2 linked regions of the Homo sapiens genome follow. The protein of the gene in region 1 interacts with the protein of each later gene in a pairwise test. Each region holds a gene or a part of one and is shown on either strand. Other genes may lie near its edges. The genes, in order: GIT2 and ARHGEF6.

What was found.
Region 2: the proteins of GIT2 (region 1) and ARHGEF6 interact in binary tests that used the Homo sapiens proteins (3 or more experiments, as listed by UniProt).

Annotation. Positions count from the first base shown.
Region 1 is NC_000012.12:109,985,748-109,993,811, reverse strand, and holds part of GIT2 (ARF GTPase-activating protein GIT2), read left to right. Parts: intron 1-2,051; coding exon 2,052-2,185; intron 2,186-4,009; coding exon 4,010-4,122; intron 4,123-4,743; coding exon 4,744-4,849; intron 4,850-8,064. UniProt on the Homo sapiens protein: GTPase-activating protein for ADP ribosylation factor family members, including ARF1.
Region 2 is NC_000023.11:136,679,509-136,687,572, reverse strand, and holds part of ARHGEF6 (rho guanine nucleotide exchange factor 6), read left to right. Parts: intron 1-1,749; coding exon 1,750-1,896; intron 1,897-4,728; coding exon 4,729-4,815; intron 4,816-5,604; coding exon 5,605-5,683; intron 5,684-6,696; coding exon 6,697-6,842; intron 6,843-7,900; coding exon of another isoform or gene 7,901-7,912; coding exon 7,913-8,038; intron 8,039-8,064. UniProt on the Homo sapiens protein: Acts as a RAC1 guanine nucleotide exchange factor (GEF).

The sequences.
Region 1 (8,064 bases):
AACTCCATGGAGATTTTCAGTACAGTAGTAGAGTGGTCACATGAAATGTTCAATGTTTTAAGTATTTCCCATCAAAAACTTTGTCCAGTGATCATGAATTTCACGTCTAGAAAATATCTGAATACTGAGAAAATAATTTAGAAAAGATATAACAACTAACATTACTACTTTACTATGTGTGAGGTACTTCACTTATTCTCTATATCCTTACTATCCCGAGATTTGTCATTGTTCTCATTTGAACCATGGTGAAAACACTCAAGTAACTTGTCTGAGATCATTGTGCAAGAAGTGGCAGAGTTGGGGTTCAAACCCTGAACTCCTTGTCTCTAGAGCCAACCCTCTTAACCACCATACTCACTGGCTCCCAGGATTCGTCTTTGATTGAAAGCCCATAACTTTTCATTATATGGTTTGAAAGGGTTTGAATAAACTCTTAAAAAATGGTAAAGATGGTGTACATGCATTTTAGAGATTTTTGTGGACATTGAAGAATTTTTAAATGTAACCCTTTGACCAGGCAGCTTAAGTGGCACCTATTGTCACCCCATTGTGAGTCTGACGAAGTATAGCTCTTTCTTTATTTGAGGTTTCTAGGTATTCAGTTTACTTACCCAGATCCATCCTGCTTGCCAAGTATGAAATTATTCCTTGTTTCAAAGGACAGCTAATGAAGCTCTATGACTTTAAAGGGAAAAAAGTATTATACACACACTAAAAATATTATTCATTTTTATTTTACATCTTTGCCTCTGTGAAGCTGCTGTTATTGCAACTTCTTTTTTTTTTTTCAGATCAGTTGCAGGATTGGACTTGGTAGTTTATGTAAAACAATTAATTGGCTGGGCACAGTGGCTCAAGCCTGTAATCCCAGCACTTTAGGAGGTCGAGGTGAGTGGATCACCTGAGGTCAGGAGTTTGAGACCAGTCTGGCCAACATGGTGAAACCTCGTCTGTACTAAAAATAACAAAAATTAGCCGAGCTGGTGGCACACACATGTAATTCCAGCTACTCGGGAGGCTGAGGCAGGAGAATCGCTTGAACCCTGGAGGCAGAAGTTGCAGTGAGCCGAGATTGCGCCACTGCACTCCATCCTAGGGGACAGAGTGAGACTCTGTCTCAAAACAAACAAACAGACAAACAAACCAATTCATGGACATCATAGAACATTTCCTAATGGAAGAGGCCAGGTTTCCCTGTCCTCAGAACCATAGCAGCTGAGTGATTTTATGATTCTGTAACTCGCAGCTTTCTGCTAAGCATATTGACATGTTGATTCATAGCAGTGAATTAGGACAGCAGTCTACAACATTTACTGCAGAAAATGCTATCTGCATAATTCACTGTCAAAATTATATTATCTTGGCCGGGCACAGTGGCTCACGCCTGTAATCTCAGCACTTTGGGAGGCCGAGGTGGGCGGATCACCTGAGGTCAGGAGTTTGAGACCAACCTGACCAACATGATGAATCCCCGTCTCAGCTAAAAATACAAAAATTAGCCGGGCGTGGTGGTGCATGCCTGTAATCCCAGCTACTCGGGAGGCTGAAGCAGGAGAATTGCTTGAATCTGGGAGATAGAGGTTGCAGTGAGCCAAGATTGTGCCTCTGTACTCCAGCCTGGGTGACAGAGTGAGACTCCATCTCAAAAAAAAAAAAAAAAAAAAAAAAGTATTATCTTGATTTTTATGGAGATGGATCCAAAATCATTCGTCTGTACCCTCTCAATTTGCTTTCTTAGCTTGAATGAAAAAGCATGCATCTGAAATGGTAGATCCACATTAGGGCTACAAACTGTGGCCCTGAACCAGAAAGAAGATAACTGTTTACCCAAGGCTCCCACTGGTGTTTTTAGTCTCAATTAACATTGTACCTAATCAGCCAAGGTAGGTCATACCATCCAACAAGATGACCAGCCTGATGCATTGATGAGCATACTGAAACAAAAATGTCTCCTTTTTCTGACAAACCAAACTTCAGTCATCTTTTGCCATCTGGCGGTATAGCAACCTGCTGGTATCCCTGCCACTGAGATTTCACTCTCTTTCCAGATCCTTCCTGGGCATCAGTAAATAGGGGAACGTTTTTATGTGATGAGTGCTGCAGTGTCCATCGGAGTCTAGGGCGCCATATCTCCCAAGTGAGGCATCTGAAACACACACCGTGGCCTCCAACACTGCTTCAGGTAAAGGATAAGAATTCTCCTGACAGTTGGTAATTTACATTTTAGGGCTCATCATGTTAATAACTTAAATTTCTCCTGGTGTACTTCTTCCATAAGACAAAACTGTTTCATAATTGAATAGAGATGGCATGCCCATCAATGCTATTTACAAATATTATCTGTATTGAATTCAGTAAAGACTTTTCTTCCTACTTGACATAAATCTTGTTCAACAAGCTCAATTATAGGTAGATAGATGAATAGTCATTAAAATATCTTGGTACTGTTGCTCTGTTGACTTTCTAGACTGTCATCGGAAATGTTTTTTTTTTTTTTTTGAGACGGACTCTCACTCTGTCATCCAGGCTGGAGTGCAGTGGCGTGATCTCAGCTCACTGTAACCTCCGCCTCCCGGGTTCAAGCAATTCTCCTGCCTCAGCCTCCCAAGTAGCTGGGATTACAGGCACCCGCCATCATGCCCGGCTAATTTTTGTATTTTTAGTAGAGAAGGGGTTTCACCATGTTGGCCAGGCTGGTCTCGAACTCCTGAACTCAAGTGATCCACACCTCAACCTCTCTCGAAGTGCTGGGATTGCAGGCGTGAGCCACCGCGCCCGGCCAGTAGTCCATCTTTTCTATGCATGATAATGAATGTTTCTGAAGGCTACTGCCTGAGAATCTTTTCTTTAATGTACTTATTCCTGAGTACCTGCTAATATTTTTAGAACATGTTTTTCTGCTTTGATAGCAGCATGGGCTGGGATTCCTCAGAAACTTCTGAAACATTTTAAGTTTTCTTAAAGCTCTTGTTACTAGTCAGAGAGACCAAATTAAATTAATATGTTTTGATTGCATGTAGAATACCCTGTTAAATGAGTTCTTTGTTTTATCTGGAGTCCAATGTCATGTCACCTTTACTTCTATCTTGGGGTACACATTCTTCAAGTTCTCTTGGAACTCAAGGTTAAGTGTGTGTTTTGCCTTCATTTGTCTTGATTACACATTTCACTGAATCTGTGACAGCTGCACATATCCCTTAAACTTGGCTGTGTGAACCAAGGAGCCAAAACAAGTGGGTTTGTATCTCTGATGTGAAAATAACTACACTGCTGTAAAAAACAGATGGGGCTGTTTTAGGAGTCATGCCTTGAAATGAAATTTGGAGATATGATTTATTACTAACTTTTGCTTAGAAGTTTCTAACCGCTCACGCTCATGTGAAAGGGGCTGTTTACTGCTCTCAGGTCTGTCTGTGTTTGCAAAGCCAGATTGTAGTACAGAGTCTCAGTAAAGTCCAGAGATGAGTTGTTTAGAATGCCAGGGTTGACCCTAAAGCAACAATTCCCCAAATGTGGAACCACCAGTGGTATTCAAGACAGATGTAGGTAATACATGTTTTTTTTAATGGTTACATTATTTTACTGTGTATGGGAAAGCTATAACTAGCACATCAAACTGTAGTTGTTTTTACAAGTAAGTGGCTTTAAAGACAAATATTAAGTGAATAATATAGACAGTACATGGGTCATTAAGAATGTTGAAAATAGTGTTTAATTAGGTTTGGGAAACCCTGCTCTAAGGTGTCAGAGTACTTTTTTTTCTTTCATACAGAATAAGAACAGTTCAGTCACACTTTAGGTATTTAACTATCCTACTAGTCAAAGCTGAATCCTGCATATAGATTGATCATCTTTCTCATTCTCAAATCAGAAAACAATGATATGAATGATATTCCTAACAAATGAGTGTTTATAACAGGACTTTGTTTACTCTGTTCAGTCACTGATCCCCATTGAATATTTGTGAAAAGAAATTAAAGTCTTATGTCATCCTGCTTGGTTTTAGATGGTTGAGACCTTGTATAATAACGGTGCTAACTCTATATGGGAGCATTCTTTGCTGGACCCTGCGTCTATTATGAGTGGAAGACGTAAAGCTAATCCACAGGATAAAGTACAGTGAGTGGAATGTTTATAAATACTTTTATTTCTTCATAACAAATGGGGCCCACTGAAAGGAGTGCAGCTATTTTTGGTCAGTCTCCGCAAGGGCAGCAGAGGAGGGGGTTACCCTAGTTGTGCATCAGGTTCTTTGCTATTAGAAATGCAGAATGGGGTGGGGCAGGACCATCTGTTTAGCATGGCCACCCAGCAGGAGTAAGTGGCTTCCTCAGTTGGAAACCATGGCTTGGAGTCTGTAAATGTAATCAGATTTAAACTTATACTCAAATAAGAGGCGATCAGACCAGAAATCTAGGTCTGGGCACCCGTCTGCCTGTTGCCTCACTTATAAGATGGGACTAAATGCTGCTTTCTCCCAAAGTTGCTAAATCAGTTCAGACAATTACACAGAGAAGAGGGCTACTATAAAAAGCAGGTACTCTGGAGTCCCAGCCATTATAATAACTAATGTATGTTTTCAAACTGCAGGTCTTAAACCTTGCTGAAACTTACTTGAGCATTGTTCATTTTATTCTCAAGTGGGGGATGTGGGTCACTTCCTCTTCTTTTTACAGTACAAAGAATGGGGATTGTTGTATCTGAACGAGTGAACTGTTTTCTTTTTTGTTTTTGAACCAGTCCCAATAAAGCGGAATTCATCAGAGCCAAGTATCAGATGTTAGCGTTCGTCCATCGCTTGCCCTGCCGGGATGACGATAGTGTGACTGCCAAAGATCTTAGCAAGGTGGGTCACACCTTTTAAAATCCCTAAAAGAGCGGGCTGAGACAGCATATTGTTTTATTTGAAAAAACGAAAAAAAAGTCTGGTTGTGGGCTTTTTTTTTTTTTTTTTTTTTTTGAGACAGAGTCTCTGTTACCCAGGCGGGAGTACAGTGGCGCGATCTTGGCTCCCTGCAGCCTCTGCCTCCCGGGTTCCAGCGATTCTCCTGCCTCAGCCTCCTAGGTAGCTGGGATTACAGGCGCATGCCACCATGCCCAGCTAATTTTTGTATTTTTAGTAGAGACGGGGTTTCACCATGTTGGCCAGGCTGGTTTCGAACTCCTGAGCTCAGGTGATCCGTCTGCCTCGGCCTCCTAGTGTTGGGATTGCAAGCGTGAGCCACTGCACCCGGCCAGGGTTTTTTTGTTTTTCGTTTGTTTTTTTTGAGACAGGGTCTTGCTCTGTTGCCCAGGCTGGAGTGCAGTGGTGCAATCACGGTTCACTGCAGCCTTGACCATCCAGGCTCTAGCAATCCTTCCACCTCAGCCTCCCGAGTAGCTGGAACTACAGGCGCATTACCATACCCAGCTAATATTTTTTATTTTTTGTAGAGACGGGTTCTTGCTATGTTGCCCAGGCTGAAAAAAGTTTTTAAAGAAAGAAAAACAAAAACTCATTTCTGCACATTCATTAATTAATAGCTTTTTTGTCAGTCGGTTTCGTCTTTAATCTGAATTCAAATGGCAGCCATTCATATAGTGGAGGTTCAGGGCAAAGAGGAAAAGTAAGTCTCTGGAAGGCTGTTTGTGTTTTTCCAATATGGCTTTTAAATTATATTTTGATAAGTTTTTTGTTTGTTTAACTTTGAAATAGGAACCATCTCAGAGTTGTTTCTAGAAGGGACTAGAAAGATTATAGGACAATTGTTTCTTTTTAATAAGGACTAGAAAAAGTACTAAAGGAAGGGGACTTCTTCAGGTTTCCAGGTTGAACAGTAAGTATGATCTTCAGAAAGCAATGTGTGACTCAAAGCTATAGTACACAGAATGGTTTATGATACTTGTAAAACGAGTGAGGTGGTTTTCTTTATGTGGGCCTTCGCATGTTTTTGAGAGATGCTGTAAGAAATGTGCATATTTTCAAAGCGCTGCCTTGGATAAATGCTTACTCACACAGAGCATGAGAACTTACTTATTCAGAACTTTTTTTATTACTTTTTGGCCGGGTGCGATGGCTCACTCCTGTAATCCCAGCACTTTGGGAGACTGAGACTGGCAGATCACTTGGGCTCAGAAGTTCAAGACCAGCCTGGGCAACATGGCGAAACCCCGTCTCTACAAAGAATATAACAATTTTAGCCGGGTATGGTGGCCGTGCCTGTAGTACCAGCTACCTGGGAGGCTGAGGTTGGAGGATGACTTGAGCCCAGGAGGTGGAGGTTGCAGTGAGCTGAGATTACACCATGGCACTCCAGCTTGGACAACAGAGCAAGACCCTGTCTCAAAAAAAGAAAACATTTTCTGCATCTATTGAGATGATCATGTGGTTTTTGCTTTTGCTTCTATTTATTTATTTATTTATTTATTTATTTTTATTTATTTTTGAGATAGAGTCTTGCTCAGTCGCCCAAGCTGGAGTGCAGTGGTGCGATCTCAGCTCACTGCAAGTTCTGCCTCCCAGGTTCATGCCATTCTCCTGCCTCAGCCTCCCAAGTAGCTGGGACTACAGGTGCCCACCACCACACCCGGCTAATTTTTTTTGTATTTTTAGTAGAGACAGGGTTTCACCATGTTAGCCAGGATGGTCTCGATCTCCTGACCTCGTGATCCTCCCGCCTCGGCCTCCCAAAGTACTGGGATTACAGGCAGGAGCCACCGCGCCTGGCCTGCTTTTACTTCTATTGATGTGGCAAATTACATTTATTGATTTGTGTATGTTGAGCCAGCCTTGAATCTCAGCAAAAAAGCCTACTTGATCATGATGGGTTAATTTTTTTATTTTTATTTTTATTTTTTATTTTTTATTTTTTTGAGACAGAGTCTCGCTCTGTAGTCCAGGCTGTAGTGCAATGGCATGATCTTGGCTCACTACAACCTCCGCCTCCCAGGTTCAAGTGATTCTCCTGCCTCAGCCTCCCAAGTAGCTGGGATTACAGGCACGTGCCACCAGGCCCAGCTAATCTTTTGGTTTTTTTTTGTTTGTTTGTTTGTTTGTTTGTTTTTGAGACGGAGTCTTGCTCTGTGGCCCAGGCTGGAGTGCAGTGGCGCAATCTTGGCTCACTTCAAGCTCCGCCTCCCGGGTTCATGCCATTCTCCTGCCTCAGCCTCCTGAGTAGCTGGGACTACAGGCGTCCGCCACCACACCCGGCTAATTTTTTTGTATTTTTAGTAGAGACGAGGTTTTACTGTGTTAACCAGGATGGTCCCGATTTCCTGACCTCGTGATCCGCCCACCTCGGCCTCCCAAAGTGCTGGGATTACAGGCGTAAGCCACCACGCCCGGCCATTTTTTGTATCTTTAGTAGAGACGGGGTTTCACCACGTTGGCCAGGCTGGTCTCGAACTCCTAACCTCATGATCCGCCTGTTTCAGCTTCCCAAAGTGCCGGGACTACAGGCCTGAGCCACTGCGCCCAGCCATGGTGGATTAACTTTTGATGTGCTACTGGATTTGGTTTGCTAATATTTTGTTAAGAGTTTTTTAAAAAATCTGTGTTCATCATGGATTTTGGCCTGAAGTTTTCCTTTTTTGTTGTGTCTTTGCCAGATTTTGGTATCAGGCTGATGTTGGCTTCACAGAATGAGTTAAGGAGGAGTCTCTCCTCTTTGATTGTTTGGAATAATTTTAGTAGGATGTTCTTCTTTGTATGTCTGGTAGAATTCAGCTGTGAATCTCTTGAACTGGGGAGACGAAGGTTGCAGTGAGCTGAGATCATGCCACGGCACTCCAGCCTAAACGACAGAGTCTCACTCTGTTGCCCAGGCTGGAGTGTCGTGGCACAATCATGGCTGACTGCACCCTCAACCTCCCTAGTCTCAAATGATTCTCCCACCTCAGCCTCTCAAGTGGCTGAGATCTCAGGCATGTGCCACCAAGCCTGGCTAGTGTGTGTGTGTGTGTGTTTTGTTTTTGTTTTTTTTAGATAGAGTCTCTGTTACCCAGGCTGGAGTGCAGTGGCACGATCTCGGCTCACTGCAACTTCCACCTCCTGGGTTTAAGCGATTCACCCGCCTCAGCCTC
Region 2 (8,064 bases), on another chromosome or scaffold:
TTCAACTAGTTATGCCAAAGGGTATGAGTTTTTTCTTTGCATATGAAGAAGAAATCCTTCATCAAATCTAAAAGGGGGGAAAAAACCTAAAGAACTAAAATGCAAGTGCTTTATATAGGTTGCTATCAAAGGTACACGTGATCTTGTATCTTCAGTATGATGGTTAATGTATCTTCTTGAACCCACTGATATAAAACCACTTGGTGCCATTTTAGGAGGAAAGAAAACTTCATTTTGGGCAATTGATTAAACTTAGCTTCATTTCACACAATTCTGTAGCATTATAAGTGATTTGGACTAATGTTTAATTATTAATCCTTGTTGAAAGATCAGTAATTGACGTGTCTGTAGTTGAACAGTAAGTTGAAGACCAGAGTAAGTATTAGATTAAAATTGCCATTGTTATATGCCAAAAACAGTCCAATATTGGCAGTTTTACATGGCGCAAGCTAATAGAACAGCCCAGTGAAACCCACAGCATTTATTATAATTATGGTTCTTCTATTTTTTCTTGTATAAATAGGAATGTAAAATGAGTCTTTTTAAAAACCTGTATTTCTTTCTGATTATATTATATAACTTGCCTTGATGGTTTAGTATATTTATTCCTACTATAGGTGCTCTTAAAATATGTGTACAGTGAATTTATTTCTTTGAGTTTCCATGTAGCTGAAAGGGACAGCAGAGATTTTATAGAAAATATAACCCCAAAATATTATCTTACATTCATTTGGAAACAGTAACAGAACTAACCATGTGCTTATTTTTGTATTCAATTTGGAAGGCATGCTGTTAAATTACTCTAAGATAACCTCACAGTTTCTTAAGCAGTGAGATATATATATATATATATATATATATATGTATATATATATGTGTATATATATATATGTGTATATATATATACACATGTGTATATATATATGTGTGTATATATATATATATATGTGTATATATATATATATATATATATATATACACACACATACACACACATATATATAGAAAGAGTATTCATACCCCACATAGTGTTGGCAAACTGTAATTTTTTCTTGGTTTGAAATTTCAGTATGTCATCATGAAATTCAGTTGTATCTCTTTTTTCCAATCCTTTTAGGAATAAAAACTAATTTAGTATTTTTTTCACAGCAATCTTGGTCCTTAAACAAAGTACAGCAGTGCCTAGGTTTCATTATAAGTTTGATTCACTGTGGCATAAAGAATTTAATTTTCTCTTTCACTATAACTCCAGGAGAAATTTTTTGTTTTTTATTATTTTCAAGATGTTACCTTGTTGAAAATTGAGCATATGTTAGAAATACAATTATTTTGTCACTAAAGCCCTATTTATGCAAAGATAGACAAGGTAAGAGGAGCTAAAGCAGGGGCACCAACCAGTAGATCTGAATCTACCAGGTCCTCACCTGGCTCTGGTCAGTGTGATTTGGCTGCTTGCTTTCCCATATTCTTTACAGGGAGGGAGAAATAAGCTCTTTCTAGCATTATGTTTTGATGCTTTGGCAAAATGAAAAATAGGCCTTCCTCACAAAACCTTTGGGGGCTCAAGCCTAGAGATTTAGGGTAGTGGATCTTTCTGTCTATCAAGAACAGGCCTGGGTCATGGGATTCATGATGAGGAATAGGGACTCAGTGGGAACCAAAGAGTCAGAAGCCACATCTTACTTTGGTCTTATTTTAGTCTATTTCATAAGAATTCCTATTCCATTATGTTCTGCTTTGGTTCTGTAGGGGCAATGTCAAGATCTGAGGAAGAGAAAACAGCTGGAGTTACAGATACTGTCCGAACCTATTCAGGCATGGGAAGGAGAAGATATTAAAAACTTGGGAAATGTGATTTTTATGTCACAAGTAATGGTGCAGTATGGAGCATGTGAGGTAAGGTATTTCAAATCTCAACATTATTTCTTCCATCTTTCGTATTTTTCTTCCTTTTTTTTTTTTTTTTTTGACGGAGTCTTGTTCTGTCACTCAGGCTGGAGTGCAGTGGTGCCATCTTGGCTCACTGCAACCTCTGCCTCCTGGGTTCAAGCAATCCTCCTGCCTGAGCCTCTTAAGTAGTTTTTCTTCCTTGTTCTTCCATCAAAGTCAAATGCTACAACATTCAAATCAGAAGCTGAGCACCTGTTCTTTGTTGAACATTCTGCTAGGTGCTGTGGGAGATAGGAGAAAAGAACAAGCAATGATCCCTGTTTTCAAAGAACTCATTAAAAACAGACTAAAACACAAGTTGCAACTAGCTGACAAACCAAATAGTCAATGTTCGATTTTGCAATCTCAACAAGAGTCCATAGAAGTTCACAGGAGGGAGAGATCAAGAAGACCTTACGGAGACAGGACTTGAGGAGGGGGCACAAAAACAAAAGGGGAGGATTTCGCAAGGCAGAGGTCATTGTTATCTTAGGAGAGAACAGAAATGTGGCTTTGGTTTGCTGCAGCACAGTAAGGAAACCAGCCTGTAGGGAGCAAAAGAAGCAACTTGGCCCTAGTAAAAGATTGATTGAGTCAGGTAGAATTAGACTATGCAGAAGCTTGACATCAGGCAAGAGTAGTTCAGATGGATGCAACAGGCCATGGGAAATAATGAAAGAGTCCACAGTCATAGAACAACACTCCGAAAGGGATGTTTCACACTAATCTGCGACCTATATATGTCAAATGAACTGGAGGGAATGGACGAGAAGCAGAAAGGCCAGCTGGGATGGAAAGTGAGAAGGAGTCCCCTAAGACGGTGGTAACACTGGGAATGGAGCAGAAGGAGCAAATTGGAGGCATCTTTAGAAGGGAAAGCCAACAGGAAGTGGTGCCCCTGGGTTAGAGGAGATGAAGAATATAATTTTAGACCTGTAGATATCTGGGTGGAGATGTCCCATAGGCAGCTGTTAATGTAGTATGGAAATGTGAGTGAGAGGTCAGAGTTAGAGGCAGAGACTTAGATGTCCCTAACAGATGTGCCTTCCTAGGAAGTAAATATCCAGAGAGAAGCCCGGGGGGTGGGGGGAGCTGAAGATGGATTATTTCTTTTAGGAAGGAGCCAGGGAAAGGGAGAAAGGTTGATTATGGCACCTGGTTTGATGTATCGGGTGTTAGAATTGTCTTCCTTCTCCCAAAACATCTTCCTACGCTCTCTGACACGTCTTTGGCGGAGATTCATTACTTTGGGTTAATAAGCAATCTCATTTAAAATGCAAATACCCCAGGGAAGGTTACTGCAGTGAGTCTAACTATTAGTCATTCACACCTTTGGGATAAACCCCTTGGGTGAAGGCAGGAGGAATCAGTGCCAGAAAAAATAAAAAGACAAAGAGGAAGGTAGAGAAGAACTGGGGGAGCATGGTGTCATGGAAATTCCACGAGGAGCATTTGAAAATGGCCAGTGTGCTGACTGCTGCTGAAGGTTCAGAGGGCAAGGAATGTGAAGACCAAGAGGAAGCCATTGGATTTTGCTAGAAGGCAGTTACTGATGACTTTCCAAGAGCAATGGGGGTGCAGTTAGGGATGGATCAATGCAGAGAAAATGAAGGCAGCAAGTAATTTGCCAATAAAATGTCAAGAAATGGGATATTATGCATAAAGGGCCACATGGGGGCAAGCCAAGGTCTGTTAGGATAGGAGGTGTACATATGTTAAAGAAAAAGAGGAACAGCTAGTAAAAGAGAAGAGGATGCTGGGAGAAGAAGAGGTGTCTGTAGAGGAAAACTAAGTGAAACAAAGATGTGAGAGAATGTGGAGCACTTGTTAGAATAGTTAGCCTGGAAGGGTTGCTCTTCTCAAATGGAAGGAAGGAGATGGAGACAGGCATAAGGATAATTGTAGCTAAGATGGCTGGGCATGGAAGGCAAACGTAATTTTTGCGTATACTAATTGCATATCTGTTGAAGGGGCTCACAGCAGCCCTCACGTTTCAAGGTTTCCTCAGTGCCATTAAAAAGTGTATGGGAGGCTGAGGTGGGTGGATCACCTGAAGTCGGGAGTTTGAGACCACCCTGACCAACATGGAGAAACCCCATCTCTACTAAAAATACAAAATTAGCCGGGAGTGGTGGCACATGTGTGTAATCCCAGCTACTTGGGAGGCTGAGGCAGGAGAATCGCTTGAACCCGGGAGGTGGAGGTTGTGGTGAGCCGAGATCGTGCCATTGCACTCCAACCTGGGCAAAAAGAGCGAAACTCCGTCTCAAGAAAAAAAAAAGAAAGTGTATCTACTTTTATGTTTTACATAAATCCAATAATTATCTTGTTCTTAATGACCAAAGCTAATTTTATGAATACGACTTTAACAAACATGTTAGAGCATACTAAATCTCTTATCACCTGAAAACCCCTTCATCTTGCCATTTTTTCAAAGTAAAATATATTTTCATTTTGTGAACCTGGAGACTTATTTTGTGCCCAGGTCTAGCACATCTCACTGGCTGCATAAACTGTGGTGACTTCTCAGGCTTTCATACATGGAAAGCAAGCATGGTTATTTGTATTTAATTGTTATGTATAAGAAGAAGAGAGATAAACTGTGGGTTTATGTCCATGTCAAAGTAAAATTCAACTAGTTTTGTGTTTTCAAGTTGGGTATCTTTTTTAAAAAAAAAATTACCGTTAATGTTTCAGTTGTTTATATAAGGTCTATGTTATAAGGCAGTGATTCCAGAAATTCTCAACAGATAAAGTGTCCAATTCTGTTCTTCATGTATTATTTTCATTCCCTCTCAGGAAAAAGAGGAGCGGTACCTTATGTTATTTTCAAATGTCCTGATAATGTTATCTGCAAGTCCTCGGATGAGTGGCTTTATCTATCAGGTTAGTAAATTTCATATAAAACACATAGCAGACCCCCTAACGAAAACAGGTTTCCATCCAGATGCAATATCTCCACTATGGCATTAAAAGCTCAAGCCAGGAGAACCAGAATGTTCTGACCCTTCATTGTAATTAAAGAGCTTGTAAGAGCAGATGTTCCTTAGATCAAAGACCTTTGTATTAGTATAATGAGTTTATCTTGAATATATCCACCGCTTTAGTTATGCACTAGGTTTTGCATGCATAAATGGAAACTAGATAAATTAGCAGCAGTATTGTACAGGCCCATGTCATTATTGCTGAGAAAACATAAAGCTGGGACCTGCTCCTATGTTTGTCTTATTATAGTCACAGCACATGATTCAGGCTTCTAAGAAGCATGTTATTAAACTCCTTAGGAAATTAAATGTCCCTCAGTCAGCTCCCAACATATAGAGTATTATAAGTTACTATTGCCTGTTCCATCTTGGCCTGGCAATTAATAATTTTCATAACATCTGAGCCTTCACTTTTTTTTACTGATTCTTATGAAAATGTGTTAGAAAAGTAAACTGCTTTGTAAATCCTGATCTTATAGTTTAGGGTGTGTTAGCCAAACACAATCCACATTTTCCCCTTGCTTTCTTAGTCTGATTAAAATTTAGAGCAGGGAAACATATTATCTATTGACAGACTGGAGAAATACGTCTAGCCATAGTTTTGCCTTGCTGAGAGGGTCAGAAAATCTAAGTGAAATAAACAGAGACCTGTATAACTGCAGAATTAATGAGAATGTTCTTTTTCTAATAGGGAAAAATACCAATAGCAGGAACGGTGGTGACTAGATTAGATGAAATTGAAGGGAATGACTGCACATTTGAAATCACTGGTAGGTAATTTTCTCTTTTTCATGTAACTACTTCCAATTCTTTTTGGAATGAAGGGGAATTTAATAAATAAATGCCATTATTTCCTGTTACATAGGCCACGAGCAAATTTTATGCGGGCATGGCAAAGTATATTCCATTTCCTGGGATAATTAGGGTACAGCAATAGCACAGAGAAGTCTCCTCTCATTCAAAAGCCATGGCTTTGCCATTAGTTTCAATTTTCTGTTGCATGAGAGCTACTTGTGAGAGCTAAGGAATAACGAAATGGACTGATGTAAACGCAATTTTCTTCCCCTCTGTCATTTGTTCCCTGGTGGCAGAGGAGCCAAAGATATGGACTTTTATCAGCAATTTTATCATCAGCCCATGAGTTAGTAAGATTTGGTTGTATTTCTAAAAAGTTCTGAAAAGCCATCAAATTTTCTTCACAAATTGAGCATAATGCCAGGCTTCAGTAATGCCCCCTGACATTTTAGCTTATGATCCCTTTTGCCAGGTCTGTGTCATTTATATGTAGTGGCCTGACTGTTGGTGCTGATATGGCACAGTGGCTAAGACTGGGATCATGGCCTTACCCTCTTCTTTCCCAAGAAGGAGCTTAAGGTTTGGTGTTTGCCAAAAGGTTGTAAATAGTCTTAGTTGGATCTTGTTCCAACTTTGATACCAGGGGAACCAGGACAATATTCCCACTTTAGACTTAACTAGATGGACTATGTGCTTATGTTTTTGGATTGCAAGTTTGTTTATGGTGAAGTTTTACACTACTTTTAAGCTTCTGTAAGCAGTAAAAATCAAGGACAGTTTTCTAAATCAGACATGAATATTTATTTACTTTGTAATCACAGGTTATCTGTTTCTGATATAGAAATTTCAGCAGGGTTATCCCATAGGTATGAAAACCCCTGAAAATACACACCCAAGTCCTAGTTGTATGAAGTCTATTTATGAATGGGACAAGCTCAAGTTTTTCCTTGCCTTTTGTTTTCAAACTGATCATAATTGGGGGATGTAGGTAACACAGTGGAGAGAATTGTGGTCCATTGTAACAACAACCAGGACTTCCAGGAATGGTTGGAGCAGCTGAACAGACTGATCAGAGGACCTGCCTCTTGCAGTTCATTATCCAAAACCTCATCGTCATCATGTAGTGCTCATTCTGTAAGTAGTCCATGTGTTCTGTCCAGAGATTATTGAGTCTTTCGTCAACTCCTGCCTGCTGGAGACTTACAAGAAGCAGCGAGCACACCCTTAGTCTTTTGGGCAGCCTATATTTGTAGATTTTGAAGTACAGTTAAACCTCACTCATTCTGATTTCTCATTATGAGGCCCATCCAAATTAATGAAAAGGTTTACTTAGAGTGTGCAGTTCTGTTTGACAGTATTCAGATACCCCAACTAACTGCTAGCAAAGTATTTCTAACCAGAAGTCCTGCTAAAATATTTTAATGATAAGCAAGGCTTATTTCCATGAGCAATGGTTATTCTCCTACTAACAGTGGGCTAAGTCGAAACAAATAGTTTACCTCCCTAAGTACTTAAACATCTCCATGTCATCTCACTCATGCTCTCACATTTGCTCAGTAACCTTCTTCAAAGGTAAACTTTTAGCATTATCTCCTTCTGAGTTATCACAAATTTAGACATTGGAATTTGAATTGATGAGATTTTACTGTACTTGCTGAGTGAGATGGAAGATATGCTGTGTTGTTTGTTAACATACAAACCTATGATGCCAAAATTCCAGTTTTGAGGACTGTGTGTTGTGGTTGGAAGAATATGGACTTTGGCTTCAGATCTGGGTTCAAATCTTGGCTTTGCCAATTACTAGTTAGTTGCTTCCCTTGACTGAGTCTATGTCTTAGGCTGTTCTCATGAAATAACCTATTTAAGCACCTACTAGAGTGCCAAACATATCACTGAACTCAAATGTTGACTGCTACTCCATTTTCCTTCCTTACAGAGGAAAGAAAATTAAATTAATTAAATTCCAGATGAGAAAGAGAGGACAGGATCATGGAATGTTGAGTCAATTTTGTGCTGTTTCTTAGAGACCCGATAATCTGGACTGGAAAGAACCAGTTCTCAAACTAGAGACTTTTGTTTTTCCATCTATCCCTTTCTATGGCTGTCTTTGCTAATCCAATGAAGCTATTGTTGTTCTCTCACTGTGTGGCACAAGGTCGGGTTCAGATGGCAGATTGCCAACATCTCATCAGACATTTTCCCAGTCTTTTAGCTCTACCGGACAGCCCCGAGGACCCTTGGAGCCTCCTCAAATTATAAAACCGTGGAGTTTAAGTTGTCTACGACCTGCACCTCCACTTAGACCATCAGCAGCACTAGGTTATAAAGAGGTAATTTTGCTACCTATGGTATAAAA